Regions from separate parts of the Homo sapiens genome. Here region 2 is linked to region 1. Evidence: fine-mapped QTL for protein levels in blood plasma. Region 1 holds a variant in brackets. A gene starts in the other region. All regions are shown on their forward strands.

What was found. PIP is the posterior inclusion probability: the model's chance that the variant is causal. The UK Biobank Pharma Proteomics Project read protein levels with antibody pairs (Olink). The fine-mapping took linkage between variants from a reference panel, not from the people measured, so its PIPs are less certain.
Region 2: BMP4 starts here. The variant in region 1 is fine-mapped to the plasma level of the BMP4 protein (UK Biobank, PIP above 0.99).

What each region holds. Positions count from the first base shown.
Region 1 is chr11:74,678,933-74,689,668 of GRCh38, forward strand. It overlaps the pseudogene RN7SKP297. Among named protein-coding and RNA genes, the nearest start is that of MIR4696, 36 kb to the right of the region's middle. The variant C/G (reference allele first, on the strand shown) is at 4,737.
Region 2 is chr14:53,953,502-53,963,994 of GRCh38, forward strand. It overlaps BMP4 (bone morphogenetic protein 4), which reads right to left and starts at 3,324. Exons shown (of 4, transcript NM_001202.6): 1 at 3,049-3,324. It overlaps LOC124903317, which reads left to right and starts at 681. Exons shown (of 2, transcript XM_047432035.1): 1 at 681-2,827; 2 at 8,360-8,855. The coding sequence starts at 2,400. The coding sequence ends at 8,408. RefSeq lists silencers at 39-108, 159-248, 2,448-2,557, 3,207-3,286 and promoters at 255-755, 927-2,222, 927-1,247, 3,150-5,268, 3,150-4,492.

The DNA of each region.
Region 1 (10,736 bases):
TCTTTTTAACCTGAGGGAGGACAGAGGCAAGGATTTGCCATTTGGTGTTTTCGTGCAGATAAGGTCATAAATGACGAATCACTTGTAACTGGAGGCCGAGTCTCCGTGTGTTTTCCAATTTGTGATCTCATTGTATTCTCACAGCCCCCGCCTCCTGCCAACACCATGTCTTGTGGGAGGATACGGAGAAACTGGGATTGGTCTCCCCAATTTCCAGATGGGAAAATTGAGCTTGGGAGAGACTGAGTGACTTATTTAGGTCACCCTGCAGTTAATGCCATGGCTGGGGCTTCTCCCTTCCAGCCCAAGGGTTTTTGCAGGAGTCCAGTGGCATGTTTAGGTTGTTCCTGCTACAAGGAAAAGAGAGCCCCTGAGGTACTGTGGGGACAGTGAGGGAGCACAGAAGGACTTCTCCGGTGGCATGGCCTTTTGATGGCAGTGTCTACACTGCAGCCCTGCTGGCCTGGTGGCTCCTCAGTGCCCTCCAAAGTAGCAGCAGCCCTAGCTCCTTCCCCAGCCTCACGCCAGGTCTGCTGCTCTTTCCTTCACACTTGTTGGGTCTCCCACTTAAACCCCAAAGAGAAAGGATCTGTTTGCTAGACCAGTATTTTGGATGCAAGGGGCACAGACTCTCTCAGGGCACCTTGGGAGTAGTTCTGGGGGACCTGTGTGGCCTGGAACTGGGGAAGGCTCAGACACCAAGGCAGCCCTCTGTGTGCTTTGTCCCCTCCACTCCCATTGGCCCAGTGCTCTGAGCCGGCCCCAGGCCAGATCCCTGGAGGGAGCACAGTGAGTTCATCACCTCACTGGCAGACTCTTCCCAGGGGCCTCCTCAGGCTCTGGGGGCCTGTGAGCTGGGACTCTCCCCACCTCTGGCTGGTCAGTGGCCTGCGCTGGGCAAAGACCTGCCCACACTGCTTCCGTGAAAGGGAATGGGGAGCCGTTTCATGAGAACAAAATATTAGGGAAGGCATGACTGCCAACATGGTTTGTGCCCTCAGGTTAGGTTTTGACTCTACTTACCCTCAGTGTTCCAGAGCCGGGCTGCCTCACAGAGCACACGCCTCTCTTAGGTCCAGCCCAGAGATGTGGCCTTTGCTCAGGTGTGGCTAGGGTGGAAGGGTCATCTCAAAATGACAATCATATGTTCAGAGTGGCCATTTTCATCCGATGGGGCTGTGCACGGAGGGGGCCTTCTAAGGCATGGAGAGCTCTCTGTGGCAGATGGATCTCCAGAGTCTGTGAGCAGAGTGGAACAGCTGGCTACTCCCTGGGCCCAGGGTCAGGGCCCTGTCAGCCCACAAGGTGTGTGATGGATGTGGAGACTTAGGCAAGCATTGCATCATGGTGTTCTGGAAAGTTCTGGGCAGCAAGCAGGGAGGTGTAGATGCGGGGATGTGCCCCTGGGGGCATGGGGGAATAGTTGGAGTGGATGTGCAGGCTCCACCTTGAATGAACCCACTGCAGAGAAGAATTCACCGTGATGCCAGAAAAAGAGGAGAAAGGAACACAGGTCCTCACCGAGGGTGAGCCTGGGGTGTCTACAGAAAGAACTCAGATGGGCACTTCCCAGGGGTTGTTGTGAGGGACCAGCACGGACAGGTGCCCTTGAGGGAGGTCAGGTGGCTTCACATCTACTGACCACTATGCCCCTCCCCTCCAGAGACCCTGATGGAGCCTGTGTGAGGGCGGGGAGGAAGACGACCGCTCTTGCTTTATTTTCCCACTCCAGGAGTGGGCATTTGTGTGTGGTCTGATGAATTCATGAGGAGGGCTAGGGAGGACTACTAGAAGCTACCCAATAGGGAGCAGCAGGGCTTCCCCATGAGCTCTGCGAGGGCAGGGTCTACCTATGTAATGTGTCCGGGTACGCCACCGAACCCAACCAAAAGCAAGGCACTGCAGCGGAATTGCGCGTTTCCGGTCCCAGGGCCTCCAGCGCCCTCTCAGCTCTCCTCCATGGTGGCATCCGGGACAGGAGACATTCCAGGAGCACATGACTAGCCTCCTACAGGCCTGTCCCCACTGACTCGGAGGCAACCCGGGGCCTCCTGAGGCAACATGGGGAGGCTCCGGCCCCAACTTTGCTGATGACAAAGTTCCGTGAGCCTCGGGTTCCTCAGCTGTAAGCTGGGAAACTGTGTTCCATTCTGTGAATTTATGTGAATGCACAGGAGAGCTCTGTGCACACAAGTGGGTGTTGCCATTAGCCTGGAAAGCAGGGGCCTGCCTGTCCAGTTCAGCTTTGTGAACCCAGTGTGTGGCACACAGTAGGTGCTCAGTAAAGCTTTTCTCAATAAACTGACAATGAAAAAGGAGCATTCTGAGAAACATTAATTATGGTCATTCCATCAGCCCGCAGACAGGGAGGCCCAGAGGCCTGGTGGAAATGGCATGAGGCCAGCAGACCCGTGTGGAGGGACCTGGGGCAAGGCTCAACAACTTGGGCCTTAGTTTTCTCATGTGTCCAATAAAAGGGTTGGACAAGGTGAGCTTTTGGGTTCCTTCCTGGCTCTGAGGTCCTGAGGATTTGCTGTGGGGGTGACCATATGCCCACCCCCATCTGGGTCTATAATGATCATGGAACCACGCTCCTGGCCCTGCCCTCCTCCCCGCAGGCTTTCCTTCTTCGTCTTGGCACTTTCATTTGCAGGAGTTTAAATGCTGCTTTGGTCTTCTTTCATACATTTGTGTCCTTCCCCCAACCCATTTTGAGAGTTCCCTGTGGGCAGTGCTGTCTCCTCAATCCACCTTATCGCCAAGACTGTCTTCCTCCTGACATCGCACATCCTCCCTCTCCCCCTCATCAGTTTGGGACAAGCCCCATCTTCACGAGGGTCTCTCCCCTGGATCCCACCTAAGGCTGTGGCTGCCCCGTCCCCTGGGGGAAGAGGGCAGAGTGACATGTCTGCTGACAGACTGATGGCCCATGCTCCAAGGGGAGCAGGCCAGCAGCCGCAAAGGTGCAGTCTGTGCCAGGTGGGCCTTGCCAGCCAGAGCTATTTTTAGAAGCCATGTTTGCAGAGTTTGTGTTAATAGTGTCTCTGTCCAAGCTCTGGCTCCCAGGTCTTAGGGAGGGGGAGAGCCTTAGAGAAATCCTCCCTCCCGCCTTGTTCTCCTCCTCACAGGTGGCTGGGATCAGTGGGGGACTCCTATCCAGGTCGAAGCCCTCCCAGCCAGCCATCTGCAGACACAGGGCAAATAGGGGCTGGGGGGCTAGCTCGAGGGAGGAAGAGAGGCACAGAGCTGAGGCTACCAGAGAACCAGTCTCAGAAGGGAGGCAGGACCCCCAGCCACAGGACACTCCATCGGTGCCATGTCACTGGATGGACACTGTCAGCCGCCTTATCAGTCACCTCCTTAGGCAGTGAGCCTGGGCCCCCATCGGGCTTCTGTATTTCTCTGACCATGCCCACTCTCATCCCAAGACCTCCAGCCAGGCCTTGACTGAGCTCTGATCTGGAGGCACCAGAGGAAATACTCCCCAGTGCACCTTCCTGGGCCTGTTTATGAAGGGAGGGACCTGGTAGCTGAGAGGGGGGCAAGCTGATACAGTCTCGTCCTCAGGGCTCTGAGTCAGACAGAAAGGGCCAATGCCTTGAGTGCACCATTACCACTGTGATGGGTATGAAGAAGTGATGGGTGCTGGGAGGGTATAACTTGCTCTGAGCTGAGAACTGAAGGATGAGTGGGAATCTCAGTGAAAAGTGAGTGAAAGACAGAACCACAGGGTGGGTGCAAGTGCAAAGGCCACTAAGATTTGGTGATTCAATGACTATAGAAGCCAGGAGATTCTTCCAAACATGGGGGCTCCCAAGGAAGAAGCTCCTATCTTTTCTTGGTTCCCACCCATCCACAGAGACCTACTCCTCTGCCAGCACTGGCAATACTCGGACCCCACCCCCAATGCCCAGTGCAGCCCAGAAAAGGCTTTCCTTTCAGGGCAGTGCCACTCCCGCACACTGAGGGACCCTAATGGCCCAAGCTGGAAGGAAGCTCAGAGGGCCCCCACTGGTTCAGTCTAAGGCTCCGCTTCAGTACCCCGGCGATGGGAGTTCACTCTCAAAGCGCAGCTTGATAGGCAGTGAGCGGGCTCTGAGCAGGAACATTCTCCCCGATACACCCACCTCCTGTGACCCAGCTGCCCCGAACCCTGCTCTCCCTCTGCTGGACTTTAGGCCTTGCTCTTTCCTTTAAACCCGTGAGACCTTGGGCAAGGTGTTCAACCTCCCTGGGCCTCATCTGTAAAATGGGGATATTAATAGAGCCGGGAGGATGACATAAAACCAAGTGGGAGAAGCCTCGGTCCAGGCCCTGGAATACAGTAAGCGCCCAATAAGCGTTCATTCCTAGTGACACCGCTATCATCCTGTGAGAGAAAGGGAAGCTGAGGCCCTAGTGGGCAGGGCTTTGCCCAGGGTGGCCCTGGGTAGCGAGCGCGGCCGGGCGGGCGCCGTGGCCTCAGGGGCCCTCCCCGGGCTGGGCACCCCCACGCCGCCCGGGCACTGCTCGCGGCCGCGCTTTACAAGCGAAAACAAACACGGCCACAAGCAGCCCCTGTGCGACGCGGCCCCGCGCCCGCCAGCGCCGCCGCCGCCCGGTCAAAGCCGGCTTTGTGCCCGTCCCGCCGCCCCCGCGGCCCAGGCGATTTTAATTAGCGTCTGGGTCTGCGCCGGGAGATGGGAATCAAAGCCCCCGTTCTTCCAGCGCCCCCACCGCGGCCCCCACCGCGGCCC[C/G]CGCCTCTCGGATCCCCGCGGCTCCGCGCACCCCTGCTGGCAACCGCGGGAAGTGGAGCCCTCCAGGGGCAGCTGTTTGGAGTTCGAATCTCGCCTTTTACAGCAGAGGAACCTGGGGCAAGTTACTGACGCTCTGAGCCTCCGTTTCCCCATTATTAATAGCGCTAGCCGGAGCCAGCCCTTAGAGTATTGCTGGGAGGTTTACATAAGAAACAAAAGGTCAGCAGGTATTCTAGTCCTGGGGCAAGGGACAGAAAGCCTTTCTGGGGGCAGGGGGCTGCGTCTTAGGTGAGGTTGAGGAGGGGTCCCCCGGTACACAGGAAAAGGCAGCCCAGGCAGAGGCAACGGGGGAGTAAAACTCAGGTGCGTTGCCTTCTCTGGAGCTGGACCCGGGAACCCGGGCAGGGGAGGCCGACTTCCACCTGTGTGACGGGGAGCCACGGGAGGGGTTTGAGCTGGGCCGTGAGAAAGCCAGCTTTGCTTTTTGGAAAGTTCACTTGGGCTGCTGTGTAAAGGAGGGGTTGAAGGGCTGAGGCTGGAGGCAGTGACTTGATGAGGCCTGAGTTGGGCTGAGGCACCCCCAGAGGAAGGGGCAGGAGGAGGCCCTCACAGGTAAGGCTGCATCATGGGCAGCGTTCTCCCACTGAGGTTGGGATCCTTACACCCTTGAGGGTTTCTTGAAGGATACTCTGGCCCTGAGTCACCAGGGTGCTTGTTTAAAAAGGCCAGTTGATGGCCCCACCTCACATCTGCTGAATCGGAACCCTTGGGCTTGGGGCCTTGGAATCCACAGCCTCATGCTGATTCTGTTACATGAATGAGGATGAATGAGCCATAAACTAGGAAAAGTATAATCGCTGGTCCCCATACTCCCAGCACCAGGACTGAAGTGAGACATTTGTTCCCATCACTGGGCCTTGTTACCCTCACAGGCCCGCATGTCTCCCAATGGGCCTCAGTTTCCTCACTCATAAAATGGTCATGACCTCACATCAACCCTTCCTCCTAGGGATATGGGAAAATCACAGGTGCCCTTGAGTGGGAAATGCCATCAGAGGCAGGAAGACCCCTAAACAGTCCTGTCTTCCACACACTGCATTCACCCTCTTAAAGGCATTTTTGTGCATGACTGCTGCTGCTCAGCACCCTTTGAGAGCTCCCTGTGGGCAGAGGAGTGGGGTCACTGGAGTGTGGCTCCCCACTGTCTTCAGAATAAAGCTCTGACCCCTCAGCCTCGTGTTCCAAATTGGGACCTGGCTACATCTCCAGTCTCCTTTCTCAGTGCCCCCAAAACTACCCTCCACCCCTGTTCAATCCCAAACACCTGTGCTTTCCTGCAGCTTTGACTTTGCTTAACCTGTCCCCTCCTTGGAAATATACTTTCTCCCCTCCCTCTCCCCCATTTTCAAATAGCTATATGTTGTTATTTCTCTATGACTGTGCCCCACCCTGCCCCAGTAGGGGTGCTCTTTGTCTCCTGTGAACTCCTTCCGTACTCTCTAGTCCTCTGCTAAAGCACTGACTGCCTTCTACACTGGTTAAGATCTTGGGTTTTTGATGTGAAGACAATCTGGCTGTGACATCTGTCACCTCAATGATCACAGGGTTGATTTGGCCGGTCTGGCTGGCTAGGCGGGTGTCCCCTTCCTCCCTCACCACTCCAGTGCATCCCTCCTGAAGCTGCATGCTTGGTCAAAGAGGATGACCTTCCTGATACAGGAGGACCATCCCTCTGTCAAGGGTATATGAGGAGCTATGCTCCCCTACTAGAACCTCCAAACAAGCTCTAAAGATCTTGGGTCTTGGAGATTTATAAATCTAGTTTGTGGCCCTGACTCCAGTACTGTGTGACCTTGAAAAAGTTCCTTAACCTCTCTGAGCTTCCATTTCCTCCTTGTATTTTCAAGGAAATTTGGGGACATAAGGAAGGGAAAGTATTTGGAGCAGTGTCTGGGCAGTGCAGAGTAACAGATAAGAGTGCAGGCTCCTTCTTGAAAGGGGAAATGGGTGAAAAAAAAAAAAAGGAGTGCAGGCTCTGAACTACAGTGCATGGGTTTGAAACCACACTCCGCGTTCACTCACTGGCAGTATGATCTTGGGTAGCATTACTAAACTCTTCTTTGCCTCAGTTTCCTCAACTGTACAATTTGGATAATAATAGTGTGGCAGACAGACCCTAGTATGGCACCCATAATGTTCACACCCTGTATTATCCCCAGTTTTTGAGTGTGAACAAGACCTGTGATTTGCTTCTGACCGCTGGAACACGGCAAAGGTGAAGAGATTTTGCAGATGTAATTAGGGTTCCAAATTATTACATTCTGAGTTACTCAAAAGGGAGATTATGCTGAGTGGGCCTGATTTAGTCAGGGAAAATTCCTTAAAAGAGGAACTGTACCCTCCCTGGAGTCAGAGACTCTGAGTTCTGATTTTGAAGAAGTAAGCTGTTGTGCTACAAGAAGGCCTAGGAGAAGGCCACGTGGCAAGACTGTGGGTCACCTCTAGGAACTGAAAGTGGACCCTGGCTGACAGCCAGCAAGAATACCAGGGCTTCAATCCTGCAACTGCAAGGAGGTGAATTTTTCCAGCTTAAGGGAACTTGGGAGTGGATCTTTCCCCAGTCAAGCTTCTGATGAGACTGCAGCTCTAACTGATGCCTGGATTGTAGGCTGGTGAGACCCTGAAGCAGAGAACTGTCTGTTCCCAGGCTTCTGACCTACAGAAGCTGTGAGACAATAAATATGCTAAATTTGTGGTAATTTGTTACTCAGCATACAAAATTAATACAGTGTCCACCTTATAGGGTTCTAATGAAGATTAAATGGGGTCACGGAGGTAATCAAAGCCTTGGCCTAGTGCCTGGCTCATGGGAGATGCTCAGTAATTGGTAGTAATTAGCTGCCAATGCTATTATGTTTAGGATGTAGCACTTTACAAAGTTATGTTTTTAATCATCAGCTTATTAGCACGTTTGAACAAATGATAGGTTTTGCAGGCAGGAAACCTACATCTGAAACATAGCAAAATTGCTATTAGACCTTTACCTTGCTGGGCCTGTGTCTGTTAGAATGCATTAGGCTGCAAGTACAGAACACCTGACTAACAGTGGCTGTCTTAGGTTGGGATTCTTAGAAACAGAAGTTGAGATGAGAAGATGAGTTGAAAGTGATGTCTTAGGAAGTGTTTCCAAGACAAACCAGTAGTAGGGGTGTGGAGAAGTGGGAAGGGAAGAAGGCAAGGCAAGGGTGTGATTCAGGCCAAGTCCCGCAGAGGGGAGCTTGACTCAGACTTGCAGAGGAGCTCCGGAGATCGTGCAATCACTCCTCAGAGTCATCCACATCAGCACAAGGGAGCTGGAGGATTGGCACCTCCATACTCATCTGTCTGAGCTAAGGGCCACCTGGGGTGGAGCGGAGGTGGACATTGTCAGGCTCTTCTGGTTTTCCATGCTCACTGGCAAAGTGGGCTCAGGCAGCCTAAGGTCAGTGTTCTGACAAAGAGAAGCAGGTGCTGGCTGTTGGGAATGAAAGCTCACTGGAGCTGGTATGTATGACAATGGTAAAGGGATAACAGGCATTGTGATTGGGTCAATGGCAGTGCCGCTACAGTGGCATAAACTGCAAGGACATCTGTTATTTTCTTAACAAGAAATGTGGAGGTATGTGGTCTCCAGACTGCTTCAGTGTAGGTCATCAAGGTCATTGAGGACTCAGCTCAGGACAGCCTTCCTCAGCATCCTGGCTTTTATCATTCTCAGCCTCATGGCCACAAGATGGCTGCTGCAGCACCAGGGCTCATGTCCTTAACTGATAGCATTTGAGTCTGGAAGAAAAGGGAGGGCTGCAGCAAAAAAACCTTTCGCCTCACATGACCCTCCCCTACAGAAGGAAAATCTTCCCTGCTCACTCCACCAGCCCTGGTTCATGTCATCAGTGCGTGTGAAAGGGCTTTATATCCTGCGAAACACAACAATGCTAATTTTAATTGCTATTGAAATCCATGCTTTTTCTTCCCCTTTGCACTGTGAGGGGCTGTGTGTGACTCACCGTGGCTTCTGTTGATTCTGCCCTCTAAATAGCTGGCAATCCCACCCACTTCTCTCCCTCTCTGTTGCCACACCCTCATCCAGACTGCCACCATCTCTGTCACTGGTAGCTGCAATAACTTATTAATACTAACTGATTGCCCTGCTTCCATTCTTGACTCCTTCCAAGTCTTTCTCCCACAGAAGCCTCAGGGATCTTTGTAAAACACAAATCTGTCTGAGTCACTCCCCTGCTGGAAATCGTTCCAGGCTCAAAAATAGGGGAGATATTCAGAATAACTACTGATTTGGAATAGGCCCTGGGCAATCAGGATAGGCCCCAGTGTTGACAGCCCTGCCAGCCCATCCTTCCTGAATATCAGCCCTGTTCTGGTGGCCCTGGGGAAATTGACCTCTGCTGCCTCTCCAGGCTTCTCTCTAAAGCCCGTGCCCCTCACCCCCACTTCCTGCACCACCTACATCCACTGCCCGATACTACTCTCTTGCCAGGCTGAACTTTTTGCTGCTTCCCAGATGTTTAACATACAGTAGGTGCTCAATCAATGGTTGTTGAGCTCTGGAATGATCACTGCTACCATTGTTACTCCCATTACCACTGCCACCACCACCATTACTGCCTCCACCACCACCAGTACCACCCCTCCGATTTGCAGGACCCAGGCAAGAGTGCAAATGGAGACTACATATCATAATATGTAATAGATCATATGTGATATGACATGGAGTCTCCATTTGTATCCTTGCCTGTCACCACTTTTGCCTGTTGTGAGGCCTCTGACCTCCCTGTTTCCTAGGACTGAAACACGATTTCTCCACTTTCCCTGAATAATTGCTTAACGTCTCTATTTGGATGTCTCCTCATCCAGGAAGCTTCCTCTGACACCCCTCTCCCCGCTCCCTGGCCATGGGTTCTCACAGCCACCCCTGTGCCTTCTTCTGTGTTTGTCACTCTGTTGTCATTGTTTATGTCTCTCCCTCTCTAGACTGGAGACTTTTGAGGATGCAGTTGGACACAGAGGACAATTACATCCCCTGTGCTGGTAGTAGCAGGGAGCCATGGTGGTAAAGGAGGGCAGGACCACCTTTAAGCCCAGGAAAGAGGGACCCCCACCCTGGGCCATGCCCTCTGGAGGGCCCCAGTCTGACCCACTTTCAGCTGCACTCCTACCCACAGCCCAAGGGGTCCATGGGATTGAGGGTATGTGCACCCCACCTCCTCTCTAGACCACAGTGGGGACCTAGGATCCTGGAATTCTCTGCCCAAGCAGCCCTGAGTCTGCTTCTTGGACTGCACAGTCCTCTTCCCTAGGTCTGTTCTCTACACCTGAGGGATAGTTTGCTGGGGCTCTGGAAGAAATTTGGAAAAGTTCCATTTGCTTTTGCTGCATAATGAATTACCCCAGAATTTGGCAACTTAAACAACTTTTTTTTTTTCTTTCCTTTTCTTTTTTGAGACAGGATCTTGTTCTGTTGTCCAGGCTAGGGTGCACTGGCATGATCATAGCTCACTGCAGCCTTGACCTCCCAGGTTCAAGCAATCCTCCTACCTCAGCTTCCTGAATAGCTGGGACTACAGACGTGTGCCACCATGACCAGGTAACTTGTTATTTTTTGTAGAGACAGGGTCTCGCTATGTTGCCCAGGCTAGTCTTAAACTCCTGGACTCAAATGATCCTCCCGCCTCAGCTTCCCAAAGTGCTGGGTTTACAGGTGTGAGCCACCACGCCCAGCAACAACTGTTTTCTAATCCTCATGAATTCTGTGGGTCAGCAACTTGGGGATGGCATGGTGGGAATGGTTTGTCTCTGTTCCACAATGTCTGGGGTCTCAGCTGGGGAGACTCCAAGCTGGGTGCTGGATTCCTCTGGAGGGGTCTTTATGTTCATATCTGCTTATTGTTTCTGATAGTTGGCCCAGAGCTCAGCTGGGGCTGTTGAGTGGAGCATATACGTGTG
Region 2 (10,493 bases), not on the chromosome of region 1:
AGGCGGCGAAAGGGCTTGCGCGCCCTCCCCTCCTCCACAGCCCCCCGCCCCTCGCGGGCCCGCCCCTCCAGGCGAGGCCAACCTCCGCGCCCGCCGCCCGAGCCTCAGCGGTCCGGGAGGAGCTCCCGGCGGCGCTCGGCAGAGCCCTCGGCCGGTGCCCCGCGGCCGCCGCGCTCCCAGGGCTACTGGCGCAGCGCACGGAGAACCCGGTTCTCGGCGCGGTGCGTCGTGCTGGGCCCCCGCGCCGGGCCACCTGAAGCCAGAGGATTTGGGGCGCACTGAAGGGACTGCGTCTCCCAGCTCGAACCCGGCTTAAGTGGGGCCGGGAGCGAGGTCGGGAAAGTCTCACCCGCCCAAAGCCTCACCACCGAGAGGCACTTAAAAAGGAAAGCGCAGAGGGACCCTGCCCACGCGCGTGTACACACACACCCCCCCACACACACACAAGCAAACACGAGCTCCCCGCCACTTCCTCCCCAGGGTCTCCTCAAGGCCAAATATTGCTCCCAATGACAGCCAGTCACCCCTTGGCGAACGCCTGCTAAGGCTCCGAAGAGCCGGGCCACCGATCTAGCTCCCGGCTGAAAGCAGCCGACCTTGTCACGCGCGGGGCCGGGAATGGGAGGGAGGGTGTTAGAGGGTGATCGCTGTGGGAAAGTGAGAGGGAGCGGCTGTTAGTCATTGCTCCGGGTCCATTACCGAGAATCCCCAAACCTAGTCCGCCGCTGCGTGGCCCCTCTCCCCATGCAAAGCAGACCCCCGAAGAAGCCATGCCAGGCTGAGGGACAGACGCCGGGGCTCGAAGCTCCGGGCAGATTCAGAAAGAGGCGTCGCTGCAGAAAGGACGCATCACAGTTTTCAGATCTTAATGTGGCCGAGGTTTTACAACTCCCGACCCGGCGCAGAAAGGAAATCCCACCATGTTCCCCGGAGTCGAGAAAACGGTGAACAGCTTTCGGCCTGCGCTCGACCTCTGCGTCTGCGTCTCTCTCGCCTCGGCTTCCCTTATTTTTTAAACCACCACCACACTCCTTCCCCCGCCACTTCCTTCCCCCACCCCCTTCCTCCGTTGCACCAGCAGCAGAGTCGCACGCAGCAAATACTCCTTCAAGAATTTTACCTACCTACAGTTCAAGCAGTTACTGGGATGTCCTGACTAATCGAAGATGCTGCCGCGCGCGTGGGTCGCTCTGCGCAAGGGCCTCTTCGAAAACCCGACTAGGCGCAACTCAGCGTTCAGCAGGGCCGGGAGCGCCAGGTCGTCCCCGGGGCCCGGGCCCCATGACTCCTGCCCCAAAGCCCACTCCACCCGACCTCCCTTTCCTGAGGCTGTTCCCAGTTGCTGCTTTGGGTCGCTCCGGAGCTCAAGAACTCGGGTTGCCTGCCGCCCCACTCTCCACGCACATACTTGGTTTTCTTCTTAGGGGCATTGGCAGGTAGACTTTGAGGAAGAAAAGTAAAGGATCGAACAGCTCAGCCCTCCCTCCCGACCGTGGATGCCCGGAGTCGACCAACACCTCAGGTCCGGGTGCGGAGGCCGCGGGCGCCCCTGCGCGACCGTCCGCGCCCGGCAAGAGCCGCGCGGCTTTCGCCTTTGCTGGTCCCGCGCCACCGCTGGGGCGGGCTGCGAAAGGGTTGGGAAGAGCAAAGGGTTTTTTTGTTTTGTTTTGAGACGCAGAAGCCCTTTAAAAAGCCCGGCGAGGAGAGGTCCAGAAGTAGAGAAAGCAGACGGAGGCAAGCTGTGCCCGCGGGGCAAAGGGACAGTAGAAGGGGCGGGCGCCCGGGTTCCCCGGAAAACCCTCGGCCCCAAGGAATCTCCTGGGGCGGGAGAGCGCGGTTCTAAAACCGAGAGGATAGGAAGGGGAAGGGGGAGTTGTGTTTCAATTTCGGATTCACCAGGATTCATCTCTAGTCACATTTTTCTTCTCAAATTTTTAAATCGAAAAGATAAAAGCCAAAAGAACTTTCATCCCCAGAGCTTTTTATTGGGGGAAAGGAATGTAACTCGGGGTGGTTGTCCTTCACTTCCCTACTCGAATCTTCTCCTAATGCCGAAATGTGTTTACAGGTAGCCTCAGTTTACCAAGTATGTATCTTTTGGGGGTTTAACCTCTCACAAAGCCTTCAACTCACAAACCGCGATCCTTGGAAACCATCCTCCAAAGCAGTGCTTGGAGGCCTCTAAGGCCCCCGGACCAACTCCCGCTGGAAGAAGCCTGCAGGGACTCGGGAATCACGGGAACCTTTCCCGTCGGTTCCGGGCCTGGAGGGCCAGGAAGAGCCGCGCGTCCGCCTTTCGTCCCGCCAGGAACTCCCCATAGGACACGACACCGCAGGAACAAGCGTCCTGGGAGCCCCTGGGATCTTGGCTGTCGTCTCTAGGGACCCTACACCGTGAAATGATAGAGGCGAGGTTCCTTGGGTTCCGCAAGTCGACGAAAATAGCTCGTGGAGAAGGCGCGTCCTGCAACTGCAGTTCGCAAGCTCTCAGGGCGCCCCGCCAGCTGGGGGCCAGATTGGGTGACACTCCCCTCGACGCAGCCTCCGGAGCGGCGCGCACTCTCCAGAGGCCAGCAGGACTGCGCTCTCTACCGCAGAACCTGCTCCAGCTAGGTGTTCTCTCCCCATCTCGCCGTCGCTCTGCCCCCTCACTCTCTCTGGACCTCAGAGCCGGTTCTCTCCTTCCTCCTCCCGCGCTTTCCGTCCGGGGATCGCAACCTCCAGCCCGTGGGCAACGCGTTCAGCCCAAGACCCCACAGTTTTTCCCAACGACCCCCCTACCAAGGGCTTCTCTTGTTTCTGCTCTCCTGCCCCGCACTTCCCAAAGGTGAGAATCTCCCAGGGACTGCTGGACAGAGAAGGCCTGGGCAGGGGCAGTAGCCGATATTTAAAGGTCTTTCAGCGCCAGCATCCCCACCTCCAGCACCACTATTGGAAAATAATTAGGCCACCTTTTGCCTCGGTCACAGCCTGTGACCAGCTTCTTCCCCCCAAGGAGGCTCCTAGACCCCCTCTGCCTGTCTCCCCTCACCAGGTAGCCTTGCTCACCATAGGTCCCTGCAGTAGCGGGCTCGCCAGCAGCAGCTCCTGGGGACCTCTGAACGGTTGCAGTGAACCTGGGCGAGGGCCGGGGACTGTGGCGCTGCAGGCTCGAGATAGCTTGGACGGGAATCCCATCGGGGAGACAAGCTAGATACTCAGCCGGAGCAGCAGCGGCGTCTCAGGCTCGCGTCCCTCAGCTCGGATGCCACACTCACCTAGCTTCCGGGCCGGGCTCCGCGCTCCTTCCCTCCCTCCCTCCTCCTCTGCCTTCTCGCATCTTCCTTCCTCCTCTTTCCCTCCCTCGCTTTCTTTCTTTCCTTCCTCCTCCTCTTCCCCGGCGGCCCCTCCCTCCTTCCCTCCTCCCTCGCTCGCCTCCCTTTCTGGGGATGGGAGCCCCGCCCACATCCTCCCCTCCAGCCGCCCGACCTCGCCTAGCAGGCCCGGGTCCCGGAAGCCCAGGCAGCGCCCGAGTCCGCAGCTGCCGTCGGAGCTGGGACGCCGCTGCCTCCAGCTCTGGGAAGCGGCTGGGGCTCACCTGGGGACCACGTGCGGAGGTACTAGAAAGCATGCACCGACTAGTCGCCGTACCTTCCAAAAATACCCATGGGAGTCTGGGCTTCCCTGAGTTTAGTGTAACTGCTGCCCAAACTGATGATTAAAACACTGAGTAATCACCATTTACCCTGAGTAATTAGAGATAATGAAACACCTCTAAAATCAGGTTATGGAGAAAGGAGCTGTTGGATCGGTTTAAAAGGTGGCCTTCCATAAACTGTTAAAAGATTTCCAAACGTTGAGAAACAGGCTGTGTGCAGAACTGTGTGCCAGAGAGAGATACCTCTTGGGCTGTTAAAAGGTGAATTTCCTTCCAAAACATTCTTAAAGTGCGTTTTGTAGAACACCTTGGTGATGACCCTGAGGTAGACCCCAGTAAATGAGCTCACTTCCCTCCTCCCCCCAAGGCCTAAAGACAGAGGTGGCCTGCAGACAGGCTGGGGCCACGTTTTTTACAGTTAGAAAAATCTGTTTCTAGCTCAGAAGCCGTCTTAAGAACCGACACAGCAGTTATTTTTGTTGGTGTTATGGTTGTTGTTGATTTTTTTGTTCATTTTTGGTGTACCTAAGAGTCCTGACACTCTGTCTTTCCAAGGAGATAACCACAGAAGCAGTAACCTTTTAGGCCACAGGGAGACAAGAAAAGATGCCCCTTGGTCTGTTTTTAAAGGAAGAGGGGAGATGAGGAATTGGCCCTTTCATATAAAAACATTTTAGTAATCATATTAGCAGGGAGGTGGAATGTGGTGGCTTTTAAACCTTCCCAAACAGGAACTAATTTCACACACTGCCTCTGATGGAGCTGTGAGGGAGCTATCAGCCTCATCTCTCTGTTTTACAAACAAGGAAAGGCAGGACTACCAGGTTAAAGGGACTTGCCCAGATCTCTGAAGTAAATCACAGCCTCTGCTCCAGAGCTAATGCTTCAGGGAGGGGTTGAGGCTCATAGCCTGAGCTCCAGGTAGCCAGAGGAGTGCTGGAAGACTGAGCATTTCCTGTCCTGGATTTCTTTCCCTGGGACAGACATGACACTTTACTGTCTCTGCAAAGCATTTAGGTCTTTACTTAAACAGATATTGGCCCTGGGTGGCTCATCTATAAAAACTTTACGTTTATACACCTTCGATATTTAAAAAACAAGAACTACTTCCTGTGTGGAACACAGATTACAAAGGGTGGGAAATATCTGAGATCAGAGAAGCAACTGTCAGAGCAAGGCCAAGACATCCTGCCATCTTTTCCATCTATTAGGCCTAGGTCTTTTGGCCTAATGCACCAAACAACAGAAACAAGCTGTATGGCTTTGGGCAAGTCTTTTCATTCCTATGAGTCTCAGTTTTCTCATCTGCAGAATGAAAGGATTGGGCCAGATCATCTGCATGCTCCCTTTATATTTGAAAATGATTTGATTATTTAATTGTAATTTTAGCCAAAGTCCGTCTTCCTTCATTTTAAGTCACTCCTGAGTTCACTTTCTCTAAGAACCACTGATTAAAACAGGGCAGGGCAATAACACCACCCCAAAAGGAGGACAAAATATACCTGTAGCTTCCAAATAGTCAAAATCACAATTAATTATTAAAAATAATAACAGAAAATTAAAACTCCATTAAATAGTTACCTAATGTTTCTCCTGCAGCATCAGGCATTGTGCTCCTTTAGCATGGTACCTGAAGTCAGGACAGATTAAATGCTCACTGAGCCCCTAAATCAATCACTGTTGTTTTAATCATTAACGAAATGTGGTTCTTAATATTTAAACTCAGAAACAACAGTGATATGCTGGACTTAAAGGCAGGACTTTATTTTACTTTAAAGCACCAATGTCATTTCGGGGTTTTTTTAATTCCAAAGGTTTTTGAATGACAGCTATTGTCTCATTTTGCTGCAGCCCAGACACTAAAGTGGCCACTGATTGGCCCATCCATGAGTCTGTGACACTCACAGTCCAGGAGTTTCCAATTAAGCTACCCGACATACCATGTTTAGACCCCTGATATGAATCTTCAGATATATGACGAGAGAACTCAGCTTTAGTTCTCTTGGGACAGCTTTATTTCTCTCCCCACATTTTAGATGGGCGCAAGCCATCTGTTATCAGCTGCTTTTACCCACTCCTCCTTTTCCCCCCTTACTCATGCCAAAGAACAAATTACTTGTTGGTTAGAGAGCTAAATCAACCACAGCCTAGTGATCAGAGTTCGTGAGAAGAATCAGTTTAGTTATTTTCTGTATCTCAAACTTACCTGTGAATTTTCATGTTTTTATAGAACATGGTAGATAGACCAAATGAAACTGTACCCTTAAAGCACATTGATGAAGAGGGGAAACCCACCATAATTCAGGAGCAACTATTGCTCCTATGCTGCTACTACTCAATGAAAGGCATTCCTTTGTTGGGTTTTTCCTGGAGAACATCAAGAAAGAGTAGCTGGTCAATAGCCTGTCTGCGAGCCCTTGGGACAGCCTTTTTCAAAGCATGTTCTCAGGACTATAAGCCTCAGAGTAGGGTGGGGGTGCAGATGAAATGCAGACTTCCTGGTCCTGCCCCAGATCTGGACCCAGAAATCTGTATATTTCACAAGGTTCTCTGGTCATTCTGAGCACACTAAAGCTTGAGAGCTACTGTTTTAAAAGTTATTTTGTTTCCATTTTCTATGCTGATAAGTACCATTAAAAGGCTGATACCAAGACATCATTAAACAGGCAAAGAATATGCTGGGCTTGAACTTTATAAACTGTTAAATATGGCAATTATAGTATCACTATGCCCTGAACACACCAAATAGGTCTATGCAAGTGAAAAGATAATCCTATAGATACAGTAGCCCTTAATTCCCCATCCCCAATTAAGAACCACATCAGGTCTTCAAACCTTCTTGGCCAATTAGGTGTCTGGTGAAGCTACGGAAGGAATTCCCAGAATCACTGCTAAGTTTTGAGAAGCAGTAAGATAGATCAATTGGAATTGGAATTCGAATTCGAATTGGAATTGGAAGTGGTCTCTGAAATTGGCTAGAAATTTAGTTTTCCTCTTATTAATATTTATCATATCTTATATATTTGCCCTATATATCTCTAGCCCTTACAACAACCCTTATAAAATCCCTGTCCTACAGATGAGAATCTGAAGTTTAGAGACGTTATGTAAGTTGCTCAAGGTCACAAAGCTAGAAAGTGGTGGACCCCAAGTCCAAACCATGTCAGTCTGTCTCCTCTCCCTGGGCAAGTGAGGGGTATTGTGGATGGATCCCCGAGGCTTATCCTGGAAGCTTTCCCCAGGCCAAGGCACCAGCTGCTGCTCCATCCTGGCAGCATGCTATTACCAGGAATTTCAGGATATCTTCCCAAGTTCTTAGATAACAAAACAAAATCAAGACCTAGAAGTTTGTTTCTTCCTGACGTTACTATATAAGCCCGCCTTAGGGCAAGACTTTTATGTGACCTTTCCTGAGAAAAAGGTTATGATCTTGAGAAAGGAGCTCATTATCTCTGCTGGGTCCAAGTTTCCTCATTGTAAAATGTGGAGCTTGAACAGGGTCCTCACAGGTCTTTCTCAGGCTCTGGAATACAGAGACAATATATCCTGGTAGTTAAAATCACAGTCAAATTGCTTAATCTCCAATGTCCACTCATTATGCTTTGTCTATATAGATCTGACCCATGAACATAGCTGTGCCAAGATAACTACTCACTGTCAAAATCATACCTACTCTGAGCAATTAGTTTTTACTAATAGGCTGAGACTGAATGACATGTCCAAAAAGCATTCTCCGTCTGTTTTGCGGATTCCTAACACCTCTAACTTTTAAGAATTTTTTTTCCTGTCCCTCAAGCTAAAACATAAACTCATTTTCTTTATTCTGATCTAAAGATGAACTTTTAACCCAATTGCACAAGTTGTTCCTTCTCTAAACATTTAATATTGTTGCCAACCTTTGATATGCCTCACTCAAAGTAAATAATACTGGATGCTGATATTTTCTCATGACAAAAAGAAAATCCAATGCTATTTCAGTTCCCTATGTTTTAAATTGCTGCCTTGATACTTTCTGGAATATGGTCCTTTCTATAAAAACCCTTCAATATTAACATCCAAGCCAGGTGCGGTGGCTCACACCTGTAATCCCAGCACTTTGGGAGGCCAAGGCAGGTGGATACCGAGGTCAGGAGATCGAGACCATCCTGGCTAACATGGTGAAAACCCATCTTAACTAAAAATATAAAAAATTAGCCAGGCATGGTGGCGGGCGCCTGTAGTCCCAGCTACTCGGAAGGCTGAGGCAGGAGAATGGCGTGAACCCAGGAGGCGGAGCTTGCAGTGAGCTGAGATCACGCCACTGCACTCCAGCCTGGGCGACAGAGTGAGACTCTGTCTCAAAAACAACAACAAAAACAACAACAAACAAACAAAAATCCAAAATGGACAGAGACTTCTAAATGAACCCCCAGTGATATCAGACAGATGAAAAGACTGTTTTTATGTCATAACATGTTTAACGTGGATGGCAGACAGGGCATGGATATGAAAAGTCTTTTCTAAGGAATGATCAGGATGGGATTGGCATGCAATGACAGATATTTGGGTTTTGACTATTCTCAGCTTCCTCTCCTAAAAAAATAGTCGACTGCACTCATTTAATTCTACAACAGGGATGCTCTTTGAAAATAAATTATTTTAGAGGATATAAAAAAGATTAAACCTTGAAATTTCTTTGTTTTGTGCTCATACATCCTTCTCCTTCTCTTTTTCTGACCCCAGTGTGTGGGAACAGTGTAACCTGAACAAGAACGTAGTGTCTATAGGATGAGTGACACTTGGAAGCAGAGGCAGAGTGCTACATGGACACCTGACTGTACCAAATGGTTATTGTGTTTTCTCAATCAGACGCCAATTGCGGAATACCAGCTGATATTCTACCCTCAACTCATGCTAAAAGCTTTCTAGTCTTTCTCAAGGAAACCTGTCCAAAGGGATATGTGATCCCAGGAATTATTATTGTATAAGTAATACTTGGATGTTTTTACTAATAGTTCACACATTTCACAGCCCTTTGGTGGAGAGCCTTTTTCGTTAATGTTCTGTTCAAGAATAATTGCATAGTATTTATAATCCTCTCAGGGATTAAGTATAGATGTAATACACAACTCAAAGATGCTTGTTGATGTTCACTTTGTAAAAATTCATCAAGTTGTATACTTGATATTTGTGCACTTTCTGTGTTACATATTTTTTAATTAAATACTTATAGAAACTATGCTTTTGAAATGATTTTTTTAAAGTTATTTTCTTTGACCATTAGTTGAAGCCTACTAGCAACACACAATGTTTGGAGCCAAATGGTTAGGCAGGGCAAAACCAGGGGGAGCCTAATCTTTGGTCCTCTGGTGGCCACAGCACCTGAGAAACTGAACTGTGGCTTCAGGAAATCCACTCTGGGGCCACAGAAGAAAGAACAGTTGTACCAACCAAGGCCTGGCCTCTGGGGACCAGTACAGCCCATAGCAGAAGGCAAGATGTCTGACACAATCCTGGCACGTTCCTTAAACTCATGGGAGGGCTGGTAACCACTGGACCAGAACAGAAGCTCCTGGAGGCATCTGAGACTTGTGCTCAGCTCTTTCCTTCCTTGGCTTCTCTTGCTAAGAAGCTCAGACTGGCACTGCAAACCATCAATCTCTGGGGCGAAATGGCAAGGTCATCAGATATGCATTTCTTAGGATAGAAATGCAGGAAGGTAAAACTTCATCCAAAACAGATAACAGTTTAAGAGAAAGATATGGGCTCCACCCCCAAATTCTGGGAGCCCTGGGCTTAGGAGATGGGCTGGGGAAAGGATTGTGATAGAGAAAATGGGACTCCCAAGTGACTGTCTTGGTCCCTCACCACAGCTGAATCCCAGCCTTGATGCAGAGAGATGGAGCTAAGTGCATGTGGCCGGACTTTGGCCCTTTTCAGAATCTTGCAACCACAGGGCCAGGCTCAGAGATTGTGCAAACTCAGTTTCAAGGAGTCAGAGAAATCAAGACAGGTGTTGAGAGCCTGGGCTGCAAGTAAAGTATGAGGTGAAGGGTTGAAGGAGGGAGTCCTGCTCTTGAGGAGCAGCCCAGATGGACACTCCGCTCACCTCCTCCAGGCAGAAGAAGAACAAGGTGTGCACGCGGGGAAGTTCGGAGTCCCTCCTTGTCTTTCTAGACTGCAGCTGCGACAACATGCTGGGGACACGAGGCTCACCAGCCCCAGTACCTCCCCACCCCTCCTCGAGCCAGCTAAGCAGGACAACTTTCCAGCTCCTTATCCGCATTCCCTCCCTGATCAGGGGCAGACTGTACTTCCCCGATGTCCGCTAACTAACGTAAAGAAACGTCCGCGTGCTCCGCTGATACCCCAGGGCCACCGGAGGAGAGCAGTGGGGTGTGAGAACTAGGCTGTGTCCAGTGGCTGGTGGTGGGGGGAGCGGCTACTGCGCCTTCCCCTTGGGCACTCCTCTCGGGTCCCTGAGGCGACGCCCTAGTAAGCCTCCACGCACGTCAGCGAAGGGTGGGTGGAGGGTCACCCTGACCGCGCCCCACAGCTGGCTCCCGCGCTCTGCCCACCGCCACGCCACCTTCACCGCGCGATCTCGGCACTCCCGCCTTTCTCTTGCCCTCGTTATTTTTAGTTCGGCTGCTGCACCTCCCTGCCTGCAACAGCTCGCCCCACTCTCAGACTCGTTTTGCAGGATTTGTGCCCCTGGTGGCTAACCTGATCCACACTTGAATAAACAGCGAGCGCCCGGGCAACCTGGGCGAGCCACCCGCGCGGAATTTGCATCCATCCGCACGAGAGGTTCCTGAGACGCTAAGCGTTCTCGCCTACCAGAACTTGGAAACAATGGACCATCCCCAGAATGAAT